Regions from separate parts of the Homo sapiens genome. Here all the other regions are linked to region 3. Evidence: fine-mapped expression QTL. A gene starts in region 3. Each other region holds a variant in brackets. All regions are shown on one strand. Distances are between the middles of the regions. Region 1 overlaps SLC12A8 (solute carrier family 12 member 8). Region 2 overlaps SLC12A8 (solute carrier family 12 member 8). Region 3 holds the start of SLC12A8 (solute carrier family 12 member 8).

What was found. PIP is the estimated chance that this variant, and not a neighbour inherited with it, causes the effect.
Region 1: its variant is fine-mapped to the expression of SLC12A8 in whole blood (TOPMed, PIP above 0.99).
Region 2: its variant is fine-mapped to the expression of SLC12A8 in testis (GTEx, PIP above 0.99). The same link has a PIP of 0.9 or more in thyroid.

What each region holds. Positions count from the first base shown.
Region 1 is chr3:125,152,376-125,158,413 of GRCh38, forward strand. The region is part of intron 5 of SLC12A8 (solute carrier family 12 member 8); the gene reads right to left. Among named protein-coding and RNA genes, the nearest start is that of MIR5092, 3.8 kb to the left of the region's middle. RefSeq lists an enhancer at 1,768-2,269 and a silencer at 2,505-2,554. The variant G/A (reference allele first, on the strand shown) is at 2,709.
Region 2 is chr3:125,117,362-125,123,399 of GRCh38, forward strand. It overlaps SLC12A8 (solute carrier family 12 member 8), which reads right to left. Exons shown (of 14, transcript NM_024628.6): 7 at 3,238-3,325; 8 at 1,408-1,495. It also overlaps the pseudogene RNU6-230P. Among named protein-coding and RNA genes, the nearest start is that of MIR5092, 31 kb to the right of the region's middle. RefSeq lists enhancers at 3,090-3,139, 3,142-3,648, 3,649-4,154, 4,360-4,579. The variant G/C (reference allele first, on the strand shown) is at 2,722.
Region 3 is chr3:125,210,014-125,216,051 of GRCh38, forward strand. SLC12A8 (solute carrier family 12 member 8) reads right to left here and starts at 2,735. Exons shown (of 14, transcript NM_024628.6): 1 at 2,687-2,735; 2 at 1,286-1,381. The coding sequence starts at 1,336. RefSeq lists an enhancer at 1,856-2,455 and silencers at 2,347-2,396, 2,407-2,626, 2,667-2,816.

The DNA.
Region 1 (6,038 bases), 58 kb before region 3:
CGGTCATTACAGATTTACTGTTTGAATTTGTTATTTTATTTACTTTAGAATGCTTTTCATTTTTAGCAATCAGGATTCTAGAGTGTCATATCTTTAAAAGTCTAGCATTTTTATTTCTGCCAGTTCAAGAGGATGCAGGAAGAAGTTTAACAGAAGAAACCGTCTTCAAAATAATAAAACCCCAAAATTATTCTCTACAATATCCAGTAAGTGCTGATTTTCTAGAAAACAGTTGGCAGGGGGAGAGAGAGAAGGAACCACCCCTCCCCCCAAACTCAAAGAAAAAATAACTACTTTGGACATATTATTTCTAATCCTTTAAAAAACACTCTTCCAGGAGGGTATTTCTTTCCATTAGACAGATGGACAAACTCAAAGGGTTTCGGTGACTTGCCCACAGCCACACGGCTAACAAGAAGCATGTGTTCTGATAGCATTAATCAGAAAAGCATATATTGCTGACATGGATTCCCTGTTTCATGAGGGCAGGGACCATCGCTATCCTATTCTCCGCTGTATCCCAAAGCCTACCTCCTGGCACCCCGTAGGCTTTGATGACTACCTATAGGGTGGGAGGATGGGAGGAAGAAAGAAAGGGAGGCGGAACAGGTGTGTGTGCAGCCAGGCGCTCCGTCCACCCTGCCACTCCTCTTCTTTGGAGACAGTGCTCTGACAATCTGTTCCATCAACTCCATTCTCCTGCAACTCTCATCACACTTTCACAAGCTGCGCAGATTACGTTTCCTAGGACTGTGTCCATCCATCTGCCTCACTGGATGCTGATCCACTCTGGTGTGTTTCCCAGTCAGTCACTCAGCAAAGTGCAACCGAGAGCCAACCATGTGCCCGGTACTTTCCAAGATGCCAGGATAAAACGGCAATAATATGGGATTCCTGTGCTTGAGGTTTTTACAGCCTGAAAAACAATGACCTCTGCATTTCCTACTCAGCACCGCGTGCCATCAACATCCAAGGTATGGGGATTTTCTGTAGCTGCCTATCAAACTCTCTCAGCTACCACCAGTGCTTCTTTCTGCTATATCTGATGCCTTGTTTTGTTACTTTCAGAAACACCAAAGGATGGCCGCAATTGAGGGACTCTTCTCAATAGCATGTTCTTGTGCTTCTTCATTTAGGACACATCTCCCATGCTGGGAAGTACAAGACAAATACGAGGAGTTGGGCAAGTGTCGCACTAAGTTCTGCCCCTGGCTGGGCAGCCCACTGACTTCTAAGAGATAATGAAATTTATGTATTTATTTATTTATTTATATATTTTTTGAGATGGAGTCTCACTGTCTCATCCAGGCTGGAGTGCAGTGGTGTGACCTTGGCTCACTGCAACCTCCACCTCCCAGGTTCAAGCGATTCTCCTGCCTCACCAGGAGAATCTTGTGATGCTGTAAGATGATAAAATGCCTATGTGACGAGACAATGTGGGGCGGATGACGCAGGCATCGTGACATAGCACTTGGCTATTATTGGCCTTGAGCTCTGGACTAGCTGGGGTTACAGGCGCGTGACACCACACCCAGCTAATTTTTGTATTTTTAGTAGAGACAGGGTTTTACCATGTTGGCCAGGCTGGTCTCGAACTCCTGACCTCAGGTGACCCACCCACCTTGGCCTCCCAAAGTGCTGGGACTGCAGGCATGAGTCACCATGCCCGGCCAGATGATGAATTTTAAAATCAAGTTTTATTATGGGGAAACTGAAGACCCACAGATATTGGGGTGCTGGCCTAGGGTCCCACAGACAGTGGTAGAGAGAATGCTGGCTTCAAGTCTCCCAGTGCAAAATACTTTAACTACCGTCCCCTTTCACTTCACTAGTCAGCAGCTTCGCAAACTGCATTTTCAATGCCATGCCCTACATGGGACTTATGTGTCCTGCTTGTTTTCTAATTCAGTCAGTGAAGAGCAGGCGGCCCCAGCAGCTGGAAACAATGTGAGCTTGATGGTTAAGGACATGGACCCTGAGGTCAGAAGCCAGGGCTCAAATTCTGGCTCCATTGCTTACCAGCTGGATAACTGCTGGGCAATCTAACCTCTCTGAACATCAGTTATCTCATCTTTATCATGGGGACAATAACACACAGGGACTCCATAGATAGGATATAGTGAGATGTATAATGCTTAGTATAGCACCTGGCACAAACAGAATGCTCAATAAACATTAGCTATTACAGTATCCCCCCTCCCTTATCCATTAGGGGTACATCCCATGACCCCCAGGGGATGCCTGAAACCAAGGATAGTACCTAACCCTATATACACCACGTTTTTTCCTATATATGCATACCTATGGTAAAGTTTAATTTATAAATTAGGCACAAGAAGATATCAACCACAATAATTAATAATAAAATAGAACAACTCTAACAATATACTATAATAAAAGTTATGTGAACGTCTCTCTCTCAAAATAGCTTACCATGCTGTATGCACCCTTCTTCTTGTGATGATGTAAGATGATAAAACGCCTACGTGACGAGAAGTGAGGCGGATGATGCAGGCATCGTGACATAGCACTTGGCTATTATTGGCCTCGAGCTCAAGCCCTCTGCTACTTGACAGTTGACCTGATAACCAAGCCAGGTACTAAGTGACTGATGGCAGGCGGTGTGTACGGTGTGGCCACACTGGACAAAGCAGGGTTCATGTCCCGGGTGAGACGGTGCAAGATTTCATCATGCTACTCAGAATGGC[G/A]GGCAATTTAAAACGTATGAACTGTTTGTTTCTGGTATTTTCCATTTAGTATTTTCGGACTGTGGTTGACTACGGGAAATGGAAACCATGGAAAGTGAAACCGTGGGTGGCGGGGTGGAAGCTACTGTGTTACTTCCCTTGCTCACCGCACCACCTTCAAATCTTAAATTCAAGAAATGTACAGCAATGTGAATTGACCCAGGACTTTTTTCTCATCTTAATAAATTATTCCACCTTACTTTCTTCTCTGCTTACAAGCAGAAATATACTCAGTGTTTCAAAAAGTATTAATTTCGGCGAGGCTGTTTGGTAAAGAATGTCTGATAAGGACACTGTGAGATTCTGATGCAGGAATTGATGTAGACATCTGACATAATTTTCTGATGGCTTATTAGAAATAAGTTTGAGCCGGGCGCGGTGGCTCACGCCTGTAATCCCAGCACTTTGGAAGGCTGAGGCGGGTGGATCACAAGGTCAGGAGATCGAGACCATCCTGGCTAACACGGTGAAACCCTGTCTCTACTAAAAATACAAAAAAGTAGCTGTAGTCCCAGCTACTCGGGAGGCTGAGACAGGAGGATGGCATGAACCTGGGAGGCGGAGCTTGCAGTGAGCCAAGATCACGCCACTGCACTCCAGCCTGGGTGACACAGCGAGACTCTGTCTCAAAAAAAAAAAAAAAAAAAGAAGGAAGTTTGAAAGGACTAAGAGCAGGGTAACAGTTGATGAACCACTTTTCTTAATCATTATTGCTTACTCTTGCCAAAAAAAAAAAAAAAACCCAACTTCGTAACTCCAATTATTTTTAATTTTTCAGAAAAGTGGCACATATTCTCAGAGAAGCAAGGGAAATTTCCCTTCACATCCCTAGACCGTATGCTCAGGGTGAAAGAGACTATTGTTTGGGTCACAGACTTGTGAGCCAGACGTGATTTTCACATGCAAATGGTGGCCACATACAGAGATAATCCAGGCCCCGGGCCAGGCAGAGACCCCAGCCGGCTGCCTCATCATGCTCTCACGGGGCATGTGGCTGAGCTGTAGTGCTGTGATGAGGGAGTGTGCCATCCAATGGGAGAGGCCATGTGTGGAAAAGGACTAAAAATACAAAGCACGCTAGAAACCGTGCAAATGAATTTAGTTCAGAGTGAGAAGGCATTTCGTCACTGAATCATGGATGGGGCTGGCCAAGGTTCACCAGAGGAAGTGAAGTGTTTGAGTTCATGTGCCAGACATGGTGCCGGCTGCTTCGTCTCCAGTATCTCAGGGCCAGGCCATCAGTGTGTGTGATCATGCATGGGTCTATGTGTGCACCCACTCATGTAGCCAGTGGCGCGAGAAAAGTAAATACTTATGGCAGGATCTTGGACCCTTTTAAATGTTTTCATCATTGTTTTGGATTATAAACTAACGAGACAAAAAATCAATCAAAGTTCTCATTGGTTAAAATAATTTTGTTTGTGTTTAACAAGTATGTGGATGTTCCCGATGGCGGTGGTGGACCAAAGATGGGATGAGAGGTGGGATGAGAAGGGCGGGAATGGAAACAATTAAGAGGCATGTACAAACAAATCAAGAAAATGAGATCACGAAACTGTCTCCCAAACTGCATCTGGTCTTCATCTCTACCCCACCTCGACTGCATCAGTCCAGGCTGTGTCTTCTCTAGACTGGACAATTGCAACCACGTTTGAAGGGCCCCAGCCTCAGTCCCTCCCCATTTGTGCCTACCCTAACTCCAGGCAGGGCTCCAAAGAGCAAATCTGATTCAACCCCTTCCCTGCTTCAAAGAAAAGCCTATTGACCTTTTGCTCAGCTTTTATGATTTCCGTATCTTTAAAACGCATGTTGAATTTTAAACTTATTTCTGGTTATTTTGTTTGTTTGTTTGCTTGCTTTTCTAACTAGAGAGACTAAGAAAATTCTCAAGATATGTCATCAAGCCTCTGTTTATAGTACATTCCATCTGGGACTTCTGAATGTTGCTACATTAGTTTTAACTTCAAAAATATTATATACTATGTGAGCTCAATTATGCTTTAAAACGAAAAAGGATGAAAAAAAGGCTATAAGGAAATAGCTTTTAGATATATTTTTAAATTAAATATGTATAGTTCTTAATAAAAATAAGTTAAAATTATAATTTAGTAGGTACTATCTACTCACATATATGAATACAAATATGCAAGGCAAGAATACTGGAAGGAAATACACTAATTATAAATACAGATGCTCCTTGACTTTCAGTGGGGCCATGTTCCGATAAACCTGTCATAAGTGAAAAATAACGGCTGTGATCTGAACAGAGACAAGCTACTGTTCTGCTTTTCACCAAGACCTGTGATACAAGCCAATCCTGGAAGCCCTAGAAGCTGAAAGTTCCCTGAGCTTCCCTCTGCCTCCTCGCTTTGAAGCACCATCACCTCAGGGAACTGGGAAGAACTCTCTCTTGAACCTGAAAAGGCTCTGTACCCTTCTGGCCCTCTGTCCCCAAACCCTGTCCCAGCACACTCAGCTCCAGCACACCTACCTTCCTGCACTTTCTGAACTCTTCCATGCGCGCTGAGTCTTCACATATGCTGTTCCTGTTCCTTGGGATCACCATCCCCAGTTTACTACCAGGTGAACACTTGTGTGACCTCTGGGGTACACTCGCATCACCCTCTCCTTGAAGACATCTCAGAAACCCCAAGGTCAAGGTTCTTCCACTCTCCTCCACCTGCAACTTGCATATTTTCCTTTAAAATACTGACCCAGGAAATGGTGATTGTTTGGTTAGGGGAGAGCCTGTGCCTTATTCTTGTGTGTATCCTCAATTTCTAGCTTTGGTTCTGCACATAGTGGGACTCAGGAAAAGTTTTTCAGTGAACTGATTAGAGTGGAGGAGAGAGGGAGATCTAGGTGGGGAGGAGACAAAGAAATACAGAGATGAAGAGGCACATGAGCCAAGGAAGGATGGCGGAAATGAAGGAATCAGGGACCGAATGTTAGCAAGACACAACTTGACAACTCACTGTGGAAAATCTTTTCAGGAATAAATACATTTTCTTGTTTCAATCTAAGGTTTCATTTCTAAGTAGGCCATTTCTCTGCTTATATTTGTTCCTAGTAAGCCCCAATGTCAAATTAGCTTTTCCTTTTTTTTTTTCTTTTTTGAGACAGAGTCTCGCTCTGTCACCCAGGCTGCAGTGCAGTGGCGCGATCTTGGCTCATTACAGCTCCTGCCTCCCAGGTTCAAGCAATTCTCCTGCCTCAGCCTCCCGAGTAGCTGGAATTACAGGCATGTGCCACCACGCCCAGCTAATTTTTGTATTTTTAGTAGAGACGGGG
Region 2 (6,038 bases), 93 kb before region 3:
GGATCACTCAAAGCCAGGAGTTTGAGACCAGCCTGAGCAACATGGCGAAACCCCGTCTCTACAAAAAATTGAAAAAAAAAAAAAAATAGCTGGGTGTGGTGGTGCATGTCTGTAGTCCTGGCTACTTGGGAGGCTGAGGTGGGAGAATCACCTGAGCCCTGGAAGTTGAGGCTGTAATGAGCCATGTTCACGTCACTGTACTCTAGCCTGGGTGACAGAGTGAGACCCTGTCTTTAAAAAGTTAAAATTAAAATATTAAAATTTAAAATACATAAAATATAAGCAGTGATACTCAGGAGTTCACAGAAAAACTCCCTAACCAACTACATTTCTCTGAAAAATGATGGGAATCTCAGGGTCTACTTTTTCTCCAAGAACTTAAAGGAGGGTGGGAGTTTTTGGGGATTTCCAGAAAAATATCTGGAAATCTTATTCATGTGGCTTCTAGGATGCCAAATAAATGTCCTTGATGTCAGATGACCTCCAGCCAATGCCAGGAATTCATTAATCTTCTCCTGGCAGGGTGCAGACTCTAGAAACAAAGATGTTGCAGCCAAATCAACCCAGAATGTCTGAGACTCTCAGGAAAGCCAAAGGGGTCAAGGACCTGAGGGACAAGGAGGGCCTCGGCCCTCACCCTGGCACTGGGCTTCCGCCCGCTCCCTCCACGTCTGCCTGTCCAGCCTCCTTCTCCACTTGCCACTTCTGAGCAGCACATTTGATTCATTGTGGAAGGTGAAGCTATTAGCAAAAGTGAGGCACTTGCTTAACTGGGAATTTGGGGTGAGCAGATTCTTCTGTTTCTGTCCTGATTTTTGACAGGAAGAGATGTCCCCATTATCTAGCCCCTCATATTTGTGAATCCCTCTGGGCATCATTATCTGTTTCTAGAAATCCCTAAGCAGGGCCTGTACCTTTTCCATCATGTCTCTTCCCCACCACAACCCAACACTTCAGTCCTGGGCTAGAGACTATATGAAGGCTGGGCGTGGTGGCTCACGCCTGTAATCTCAGCACTTTGGGAGGTCAAGGTGGGAGGATCACTTGAGGCCAGGAGTTTAAGACCAGCCTGGGCAACATGGTGAGACCTCATCTCTACCAAAAAATTAAAAAAAAAATTAGCCCAGCATGAGGGCATGCCCCTGTAGTCCCAGCTACCTGGCGGTCTGAGACAGGAGAATTGCTTGAGCCTGGAAGGTTGAGGCTACAGTGGGCTGAGATTGCAACACTGCACTCCAGCCTAGGCAACAGAGTGAGACCCTGTCTCAAAAAATAAATTAATTAAATTTTAAAAAGACTATATGGATTCCCAGACAGTACTGCAAGGGGAAGGTGGCCATTTGTTGGTGAGAACAAATAAATGACTCCGGCAGACTGAGCCCTTGGAGTAGCGCAGGCCTCACTCACCTTTTCCGCTATCAGGAAGTCATAGCGAAGGGCCTCTCGAGTGCAGATGGCGCCCAGGAGGAAGACGAAGATGATGTACAGAAACCACCTGCAAAACCCAAGAGCAGAACAGAGCTGCCCCCGACTCACCTCACCCAGCCCCATCCAATTCCCTCACTCAACCTTCTGTTTCCAAAGGGAACTTGTATCAGAATGAGAGAAAGGCCAGTCATGAAGCTTCCCCAGCTGGCTTGGGAGGACACTTTTTGTACTATTTCTCTTCTGGCATATTTCTTACCAAAAAAGGGGTACCATTGTTTTGTTTCTTTTTTTACTTTTAAATATATATAAAAATATGGAACACTTCACGAATTTGCATGTCATCCTTGCACATGGGCCATGCTAATCTCTGTATTGTTTTAATTTTAGTGTATGTACTGCTGAAGTGAGCAGTTTTTTTTCTCTTTCTTATATTAAAAAAGAAAAACATACAAAGGGCATTCCGAGTAGGGAAGTGGGAGGCCCAGTTGCCTCTAGGTTGCCAGGATTCAGGCCAGGGTTGCCCCGCAGCCTCACACCCCAGCCTCCTCCAGCAAAAGAACAAGCTGATGATCCTTCGGGCCTCTAAGTCCTGCTGGTCTGTTATCTTTGGATCAGATAATAAAGAGGGAAACTAAAGTCAAAAGGCAGAGAGCAGAGGCCTGGCTCTGTCCCCAAGATGCCCTGTAACCTTGAACAAGACCCAGGTTCCTGTGGTCTCCTCATTCCCATCTGGGTAATCAGAGGATGGGCCAAGGGTTCCTCCTGGAACCTCCCAGCTGGGGCCAGAAACAAGACAGGGTCCTCATTCAGAAGCCTCTTTCTTTTATTTCCTTCCCAACACTCAACTCTATCTCTGTTGTCTTCATTTTCTTCCCAATGTTATTGCACAAAATACCCTGATGCTGTACGCCAGGCTGATAGCAATGGTTTCACTGCAGTAAGCTAAGAACAAATTCAGTGTTTGTGAAACAGATACATTAATATTTTCTAAATACTGTGGTTAGAATAACACAGGCCCTTTTAACTTCTCAAGTCATTGTTTCTGGTCTCTGATCTCTTTGCCTCTTCACACCTACCCAATGAAGGGCAGAGAAGCTTCTTCCTGTGGTACAGAGAGAAACAATATTCTAAAAGGTCAGAAATAGACCCAAGGTTACCCAGCCTGCTTGTGTGGGTGGCACAGTGTGAACTAAAACCCCAGAGGCCTGACGGCCTGGGGGAGCTGGAGGGGAGGCTCACTGGGGGAAGAAGAAGAGCTGGGTGCTGAGCTTCCACTGTGTGCCTTCTCTCCCC[G/C]CCGCAATCTAGGAAGCACATACAGTGTCATTATCCCCATTTCACAAGAAAGGAAATGGAGGCTCAGAGAACTCAGTAAATTGTCCAGAGTCATGCAGCCAATCAGCGGCAGAGCTGAGATGCAGCCCCAATTCGTCTGATTGCAAAACTCTTCATCTTTATGCTCCCTCCAGTGATCCTGGAAACTCGGTGGTTAAAAAAATCCCCAAGTTCAAAATGGGGGTGGGGGAGGGACGGGGGCGGGAGGCCGAGGAAAGGAAAGAAAGGATTCGATCTGTGATCTGGGTCCCGACACTCCTCCTCGGCAGCATTCCCAGGCAGGGCGCATGAAAGGGCAGTGTCTGAACCCACCAGACGTGAATTTTCCAGCCCACCGAGTGTTAAAAGAAGGATCGGAATATGAAATAGATTGGTCACAGTCGGGGCACTCTCAGAACAAAAGGGGCAATCCCTCTTCTGCCTGGGGTTTTCTCTCCCACTCTCTAGCTCAGACTGATTGCCATGAGGGGAACTTACGAGATGCCAACAGCTGCCAGGGAGCCCAGGGGAATGCTGGCGGCAGGCTCCCTGAGGTCGCCCCCCATGTTGAAGCCGGCCATGACTCCTGAAAGACACCCAGATGGGGAATGGGGTGAGCAGCCTCCTCCACGCATCGCCTTCCCCAGGGCTGCCCCTTCCTCTCCTGCGGGACCCTCTCCTGGAAGCTGTCCCACCGCAAGCCCTCCAGCTGCAGCTCTGCGCATAGGCTGCTTTTCAATCTCCCCTGGCAACTAGGGAGGCATCCCTGTGGCGTGAAAGGCACCTTTGTGGGTTGGAGGAGGCTCAGGAGGAAAGCCCTCCCAGCTCCAAAAGCATCCTACCGCTCAGCGCAAAGCAACCAGGGGGGAGGAAAGCGGCTTGCAAGGCACACAGAGGTCCTGCGCTGCCTGCTGAGCTGGGACAATGCCCTGGAGAGGCTCAGCATTACAAAGGTCTGGCAGCCTCCTGCTCAGCAGCTTTCCCTGCCTCTGCTGCCTGCTGATTCCATGGGAGCTTCCTGTGTCCTCGGGGTCAGGTACCATCCTCCAAGCCCCTGAGCTACCAAAGGGCTTGAAATAAACTCCAAAAAAACCAATCCTGATGCCACTGACATGGAGTCACAAGCTCCTTTTCATCATCACCTCTCTTCTGCAAGAACACTAATGAAAATGAATTAATCCATGAGGGACCCACAGCACAGTGCTGCATGGTGAAGTGGGGATGTTGCCTCTTCCCATACAAACAAATATATGAAAGCAACAAGACAGGGTGTTCTGAACATCGGATGAGGATCCAGCCCACAAGTGCCATAACAACTCAGTGTGATGGGCTGCCCTGGTCAGGAAAGACCCGTGGAGGGGGTTGTATCTTGAATGTGGCCTTGAAAGAGGGATTTGAATGGGCTTAGGGATGGGAATGAATCTAACTCCATGATTTGTGAACACTTTCAAACTGCCTGGGCCTGTGTCAAGTGCTTTACATGCATTTTTTTATCCTGTTTAATTCTCATAACAACCTCATCAGAAAGGTAGAATTATTTCCTCATCTTATGGAAAAGTGTTCAAAGAGGTTAATTAAAACAGCCTAAGGTCACACATTTAATAAGCAGCAAAGCTAAGATTCAACCCTGGTCTGTCTGACTCTGAAAATTATGCTCTTAATGCCTCTGCTACAATGCTTCACAGAATCCAAGCGAAGTGCAGTGAAGTGACAGTTTGGAACCAGAAAGTGAAAGTAGGGGGGTGTATTTCAGAGAGAACCCTGAATGCTGGCCCGCGGATGGGGTGCATATACTGTCACCCAGCAACTCCACTATGAGGACTTTACCCATCGTAGGTAGTCAAGGCTATGAGGGAAGATTTAGCCCAGCGTGTTTATAAACGCTTGTTTAGAATAGTGGAAATTAGAAACAACCTAATGTCTAAAAATAGAGGGTTGGTTAAATAAGTGATGATATAGCTTTCAATAAATACTAGGTCTCAGAATATTGTAAGGGATATGTTGTGACATGGAAAGATGTTTAGAAGCTTTTGCTTAGTTTTAAGACGCATATTAGAAAACAGAACACATGGTATGATCCCATTATTATAAAAATATATAGAAAAAGGAACTGGAACATGTTTTAAAACATTAACAATGTTATTTCTGGGTGATAAAAGAACAGGTCATTTTTATTTGACTGTTTATATTTTCTCAATTTTCTACAATGATCATTTTGAAACGTGAAAACTTTTAAGGTTTTGTTGTTGTTGTTTTTGTTTTTGTTTTTAACGGCCTGTTAGGCACATTTTCTTTCCTCTCATTCCCTCCTCTCCAAGATCCTATTAAGAGCATAGTAAAGGGGAAAAGTAGATAAATTCCCATAAGCAAAGAGAAGTTGGGAGGAGGACCCTAAGTAGATGAAAGGTTCCCATGAATGTCTGGAACATAGAACATAGAAAATGGAGAATATAATACCGAGGAAAAGAGAAGGAAAGAAAGCCTCGGAATGCTTCTCTACAAGATCTCAATACACTGAGGAAAACCAGGGCTGGACGTTTGCACCCCAAATAAAGCCCTGCTCAAGAATCAACAGCACTCACAAACTTCTCATCAAGGTAGGGCCCCAGCAGGGAGACAGACCTAACCATGCGACAGCTGGGGAAATCCATGCCCACAACCAAGATCACCCAATGTGTGATGAAAACCAGCAACAAATAAACAAATACACGCATAAATAGAAACAGAACAACCCAGGCTGGAAGAAACATAAATCAGGATACAGAGAGAATTTGGAAGAAAACACTAATTAGTAGCTCCAGGTACATCCAAGAAGAATATTCTATCTATAAAACAAGGTGCTATGAAAAAAAATCCAAGAACAACAAAGAACTTTTGGAAATTAAAAATATGATCATTAAAATTAAAAATGCAACAGATTTAAGGGCCAGGTGTGGTGGTTCATGCCTGTAATCCCAGCGCTTTGGGAGGCCAAGGCAGAAGGATCACTTGAGGCTGGGTGTAATGGCTCACACCTTTAATCCCAGCATTTTGGGAGGCCGAGGCAGGCAGATCATCTGAGGTCAGGAGTTCGAGACCAGCCTGACTAACATGGTGAAACTCCATCTCTACTAAAAATGCAAAAAGTAGCCAGGTGTGGTGGTGCACACCTATAATCCCAGCTACTTGGGAGGCTGTGGTGGGAGGATCACTTGAGCCCAGGAGGTAGAAGTTGCAGTGAGCGGATATCATGCCACTCACTCCAGCCTGGGTGACAGAGATCCATCTCAGGAAAAAAAAAAAAAAAAAAAAGAAGGATC
Region 3 (6,038 bases):
ATTGGGCATTGGGCCATGTCCAATCCTTCGATGTTTAGCTATTAAGGGAGAAGGAGGCAACACAGAGGTCATTGTATCCATCACATTTTAGAAATCAACTCTCTCTTAGGGCACTTATGACAATTTAACTTGCATTGTGGTTTTCTGTTGTTTGTTCATGTGATCAATCAACTAAAATTTACTGTCCACTTAAATACCAATTTAAATACTTAAATACCACTTAAATACTTGGGTGAAGGTTTCAGTGACAAATTGTTGATAAGAAGCATCAGCAAAGATCAAGGGAAAGATATAAGCTCTGGGGAATGGTGTGGTTCAGCTGGAAGGTGTGGCAGGAAGAAGAAGATGTGGGGAACTCGACTTGAGACTCAGGTGGGGTCAGACTGTATAGGGCTGAGGCTGAAGAGTTTGAGCCCTGAGTGGTGCACATGAGGAGACACTGAAGGTTTTAAACAGGGGAGAGAGGAACAGATGCCATCACAGGGGAGATCTCAGAATGTCTTATTTGTCTCTCCTTTGGGAATTCCTGGGCCTCACATTTTCTGTCTGGGTTTCTTGTTCATTGTTGATTCTCTCCCCTCTGATGGGGCTTGTCCCCCTGTTACAAGGCTGGGAAACCCTCCTGCCACTCTCTAGAAGCAGGAAAGAAACCCAAGGGATGGTGAAAACTTCATGTTGAGTGATCATGGATGGCAAAGACCCTGGGTGCACATAGTTTCTGGATAAACACTTTAGTATGGTTTATTATTATTATTATTTCTTAAGGGATCAGCTCTCCATTTCTGGGTAGAGCCACTTCAATTCCATATCTACAGAATGCATGTAACTAATGATCAGCAGGGAGAAGATAAAGAAAAAAGAAGAAAAAAAAATAGCAAACACCAGGGCATTCAGAAATCCTTTTGGCTTCAGAACATAAGAGTTTTTTCAGAAATAAATTTACCTTCTTACATTGGTTTGATTCAGAATTAAAATGAGTTCATATTATCTGAGTCCTCACTGTGACTGTCTGTGGAAGACCTCTCAGGATGGAGTTTGGAGTTGTGGGGGATCCCAGGATTCAAAATCCACCACAAATAATGCCAAAGGTTTTCTGTATATGAACAGTTAATAATGGCTATAATATTTTGGCTATAATATTTTCTCATTGAACTGGATGACCAAAATAGACTTTGGAGTTAATTACATCTAAAGGGTGCGCTGTAATGTTTGCATCCAGCCCACTGTCTGGGGATCCCCGTGCTCACAGGCCTCCATCACAGACCCTGGCACATCCTGAGCCTACCTGCTGGGCTGCCTCATGGAAGAGCTCCTGCACCTGGGACATCTGGGTCATTCTCCAGCAAGCAGGGATCCTGGTGATCTGGACAGGGAGACTGCTCTGGAAGGTAACAGCATCCTTGGTCAGGCTGGCTTCTCCTCTCCTCTCCCCTTGTTGTCCATCCTTTCTCTCTACTAGAATTGTTCAAACTACCAGGCGAGGCCCTGGCTGAGGAAGAAACCTTGTCTACCTCATCTGGAAACTTGGCCGGGTTACCTTTTTGGTACCCAGGTAGATCCCGCTGGTCCTTCAGTGCCCACCTGTGCTCAAACCTTGCTGCCCTAGAACCTCAGGCACTCCCAGCTCTCTCCTTCCCTGAGCTCCTTAAATACGTGAGGGTCAGAGCCAGCTGCCCTGCTGCCCAGCCCTTGAGGACACAGAGTCACACTCCTCTCCCACCCTCAAGTGCCTCGTGAACCCCTCTCTCCAGGAGGAGGGCATCATGACGCACTAGACCTGGCTGCAGGTGGTGAGTGAATGTAGCTGCGCCCTGAGCAGAGGGGAGAGGGGCCATGAGGAGGCTGTTTTGGGGCCCTTCTGGAGCAGGGCCGGAGAAGGGTAGGAGATTGAAGAGGGTGAGTGAGAAAAGGCTGGACAGGACTAGGGCAGCTCCTCAACCCACCCCCAGGCACCCTCCCCTTCGCGCTGGACCTGGCTTTCCTTGAGGGGAGGAGGGAGTTTGTCCCCTTGATCTGTGTGGCGCCTCTCCCCAGCACAGTGCTGCAAGGTAGACGGGGCTCAGGACCCTTTGGTAGAAGGAGGAAGGGGGAGGAAGAGAGCGAGGGGGAGGGTTAGAGCTGATCTTCCTGGGAAGAAGGCGACTAAGGACAGCAGCCAGCGCTGGCGAGGAGGGAAGGCGCCCGGAGCACTGAGTGGGGGGTTGGGAGAGGAGGGTTAGCCCAGTGGGAAGCTGGGAAGGCTGGGGGACTTGGTGGGCTGCAGTCCTGCCAAAAGCCGGGTGACAGGTAGGGAGCCAGAGCACCCGGGTGTCCCCGGCTGCCCGCGCCGCACAGAGCAAGGGACCCCAGGCCTCCGCTCGCCCTTCCCGCCGCCCCGCGGCCTCCGCAGGCCGCCCCGCAGGCCTCCGCCCACATTCACCTGGCTCCTCCGCGGAGCCCCTACCCTCACGTTTGGGCCACGCTGGGACCCGGGCCCCTTGGCACCCCACGCAGACGCGGACCCGCACCCCAAGTACTGGGGCCAGGCCCGTGTGCCGGCGCGCGGGTGACCGGCGGTAGGAGAGGATCCACCTGGGCGGGGAGGTGGGGGCAAAGGTGACCCCAGGCCTGGCTCCTAACTGCGGGCCGGGGAGAGGAACTGTCCCGAGACCACCCTCTCCACCCCCCACAGCCCTTCCGCCCTCACCTGCTCCTGGGACAGCCAGCTCCCAGCGCCCGGCCCGCCCGGTCCCCGCCCCGCCGCCACGTGGCTGCCCCGGCTCGGCTGCGCGGGTCCCAGCTGTCCCGTCCCGGCGGGGGCACCCCTGCCACGCCAGCACCGGGAGTCTCGGGCCCAGGTGGCGAGGAGGCGCTGCAGAGGCTTTCCCTCCGCAAGGGTCGGGCCTTCGCGCCTACCTGGACAAGAACATTCACCTGGGTAGGGGCAGGGCTGGGGGAAAACAGGGAGTAGGGGCCGCAAGCCCACAGGCTCGAAGTGACCAGCCACTGCCTCTCCCCCCTCGACAGTGCAACCAGCGGAAATGCCCAGCCCCGGGACCAGGGGACTAGGGACAGGAGCCTACCCTGTGCGGCTCTGAGGAGTGGCTGTGAGCACTGCACGCAGGACTGAGAAAGCCCGGGATAAGCCCGGAGTGCAGGGAAACCCGCAGCCCCCTGGGCAGATGTGGAGAAGAATCTGGACAAGCTGACCGAGACCCCGGTACCGGGGGTCTCCGTGTGTGCCTGGCTGCGTGATCAGGTGACCCCAGACTCTGAGGGCGTGGAACTGCTTTTGCCAGGAAAGCGCTCTGGGCATGCTGTGTAGGGGTGAATTACCCTTACCCCCTTCACCAAGACCCAGAACTGCCTTTCCTAGGGGTGAAGTAAGGTTTCCAGGGCCTCATGTTGCAGAAAAAAAGAACCCTAAATTAACATACAGAGAGATTAAATTATCTCCATTCCCAATCTGGCATATTTCCTAAACCTTAAATAATTTGAGAGGCTTCCATGTGGGCTTCTGAGAAACAGGAGGGCAGCTGGGAGAACTTCCCACGCCCACAAGCCTTTGTGTGAAAATCCCTAAAAATAGAGGTTGTTCTTCTAAAAACAAAAGGGAAGGCTAAGCCATGGGAACACTGACAGAACCTAACCTCTCGCTTCTGCTCCAGCAAAGACGCGTGTGAAGATATAGAACATCATATTTGCCATTTTTACCATTTTAACTGTACAGTTCAGTGGTATTAATCACACACAATATTGTCCAACCATCATCGCTATTTCCAAAACTTTCATCGTCCCCAATAGACACTCTGTACCCACTAAGTACTAACTCCCCGTTTCGTCTACCCTCAGAGGTAACTCCCCTCATCTACTTCCCGTCTCTATGGATTTACCTATTTTGTGTATTTCATGTAAGTAGAATCATACAATACTTGTCCTTTTGTGTCTGGCTTACTTCACTCAGCATAATGTCCTCAAGGTTCATCCATGTTGTAGCATGTGTCAGAATTTCATTCCCAGCAAAGAAATTTTTAATAACCCATCTCTGCCAGAAAAAAAGACCCCCCAAAAGTTACAGATTAACCATCTGTGAACAAAGGATGAATGGGCGGACAGGCTGACACAGTCACGTTACTGGAATCCATTATGCAGTCACCGCTTGGCATCTGCAGGAAATTAGTTCCAGGCCCCCTGACCAATACCAAAATGCGTAGATGCTTAAGTCCCTGATATAAAGTGATGTAGTATTTGCATTTAACCTACACACATCCTCCCACATACTTTAAGTCATCTCCAGATTACGTATAATACCTAATTCAAGGCCAGGCACAGTAGCTCACACCTGTAATTCCAGCACTTTGGAATTACAAAAATTCCAAATCTCCAGGCCAAGGTGAGAGGATCACGTGAGCCCAGGAATTCAAGACCAGCTTGGGCAACACGGTGAGAGCCTATTCTTTTCCCCACAAAAGAAATTTTAAAAATTAGCTGGGCATGGTGGTGCATGCCTGTAGTCCCACCTACTTGGGAGGCTGAGGTGGGAGGATTGCCTGAGCCCAGGAGGTTGAGGCTCTAGTGAGCCATGATCATACCACTACATTAAAGCCTGAGTGACAGAGTGAGATCCTGTCTTAAAAAAAAAACAAACAAACAATCAAACAAAAAAAAAAAACTATGTAAATTGTTGTTATACTGTATTGTTTAGGGAATAATGACAAGAAGAAAACTTTGTACATGCTCAGTACAGCTGCAACCATGCTTTTTTTTTTAACCAAATATTTTTGACCTGCCTTGGTCAAATCCACAGATATGAAGGGCTGACTGTATTTCCACAGATTCATCAGAATGATCAGCAGAGTCATTTTTCTTATTCACTTTTGGTGGGTCATACATGACACTGCTCTTTTTTTTTTTTTTTTGCCTCAAGCTGGTTTCCTGTTTGCTGTCACCTTCCGATGAGTCTCCCTCTAAGTGTCAACATGAATTTTGAAGAATCTGCATTCAATTCCATATCAGCCTGAGTTAAAAACTTTAGAATGGGGAATCCACCTCTCGCTTTATAACCACCTACTTCCTGTCACTCGTCATTTTCTAAATAAATGAGAAGTTCCCTTCAAAGCTTATAAGCATCTTCTAAACCCAGAAACAAATATAGTTGTTTATTTTCTTCATGTTAAGGCTACAGAAACCTGCCCTTTGCAAAGAAAAATATATATATATCCTGCTTAATGTAGATTTTTCTTATAACAATAACACTAACCTTAAAAAAACAAAAAAACAAAAACAAAAACAAAAAACCTCATGTTGAAAAATAGTATCCTGGCTGGGCGAGGTGGCTTGCACCTGTAATCCCAGAGTTTTGGGAGGCTGAGGCAGGTGGATCATCTGAGGTCAGGAGTTCGAGACCAGCCTGGCCAACATGGTGAAAAACTGTCTCTACTAAAAATACCAAATTTAGCCAGGTGTGATGGTAGGCACCTGTGATTCGGGAGGCTGAAACAGGAGAATTGCTTGAACCTGGGAGGTAGAGGTTGCAGTGAGCTGAGATCATGCCACTGCACTCCAGCCTGGGCGACAGAGTAAGACTCTGTCAAAAAAAAAAAAAAAAAAGAGAGAGAGAGAGATAGTATCCTGCATATCCTTTAAACATTGCCATTTTGAAGATACTGCCCTACATGAACTAGGAAAAGCATGTTTGTTGCATCATTACTTTGTAATACTTTAAACAATGAGAACAACCTAAATGTCCATCAACAGAAGACTGCTTAGATAAACGGTACAGCCATACTATGACAGCTGGCATTAGAAATAATTAGGTGTTTCTGGGCTGGGTGCAGTGGCTCACGCCTATAATCCTAGCACTTTGAGAGGCTGAGGCCGGCGGATCACCTGAGGTCAGGAGTTTGAGACCAGCCTGGCTAACATTTGTTTTTTTTTTTTTTTTTTTTTTGAGACAGAGCCTCGCCCTGTCGCTCTGGATGGAGTGCAATGGCATGATCTCGGCTCACTGCAACCTCTGCCTCCTGGGTTCCAACGATTCTCCTGCTTCAGCCTCCCGA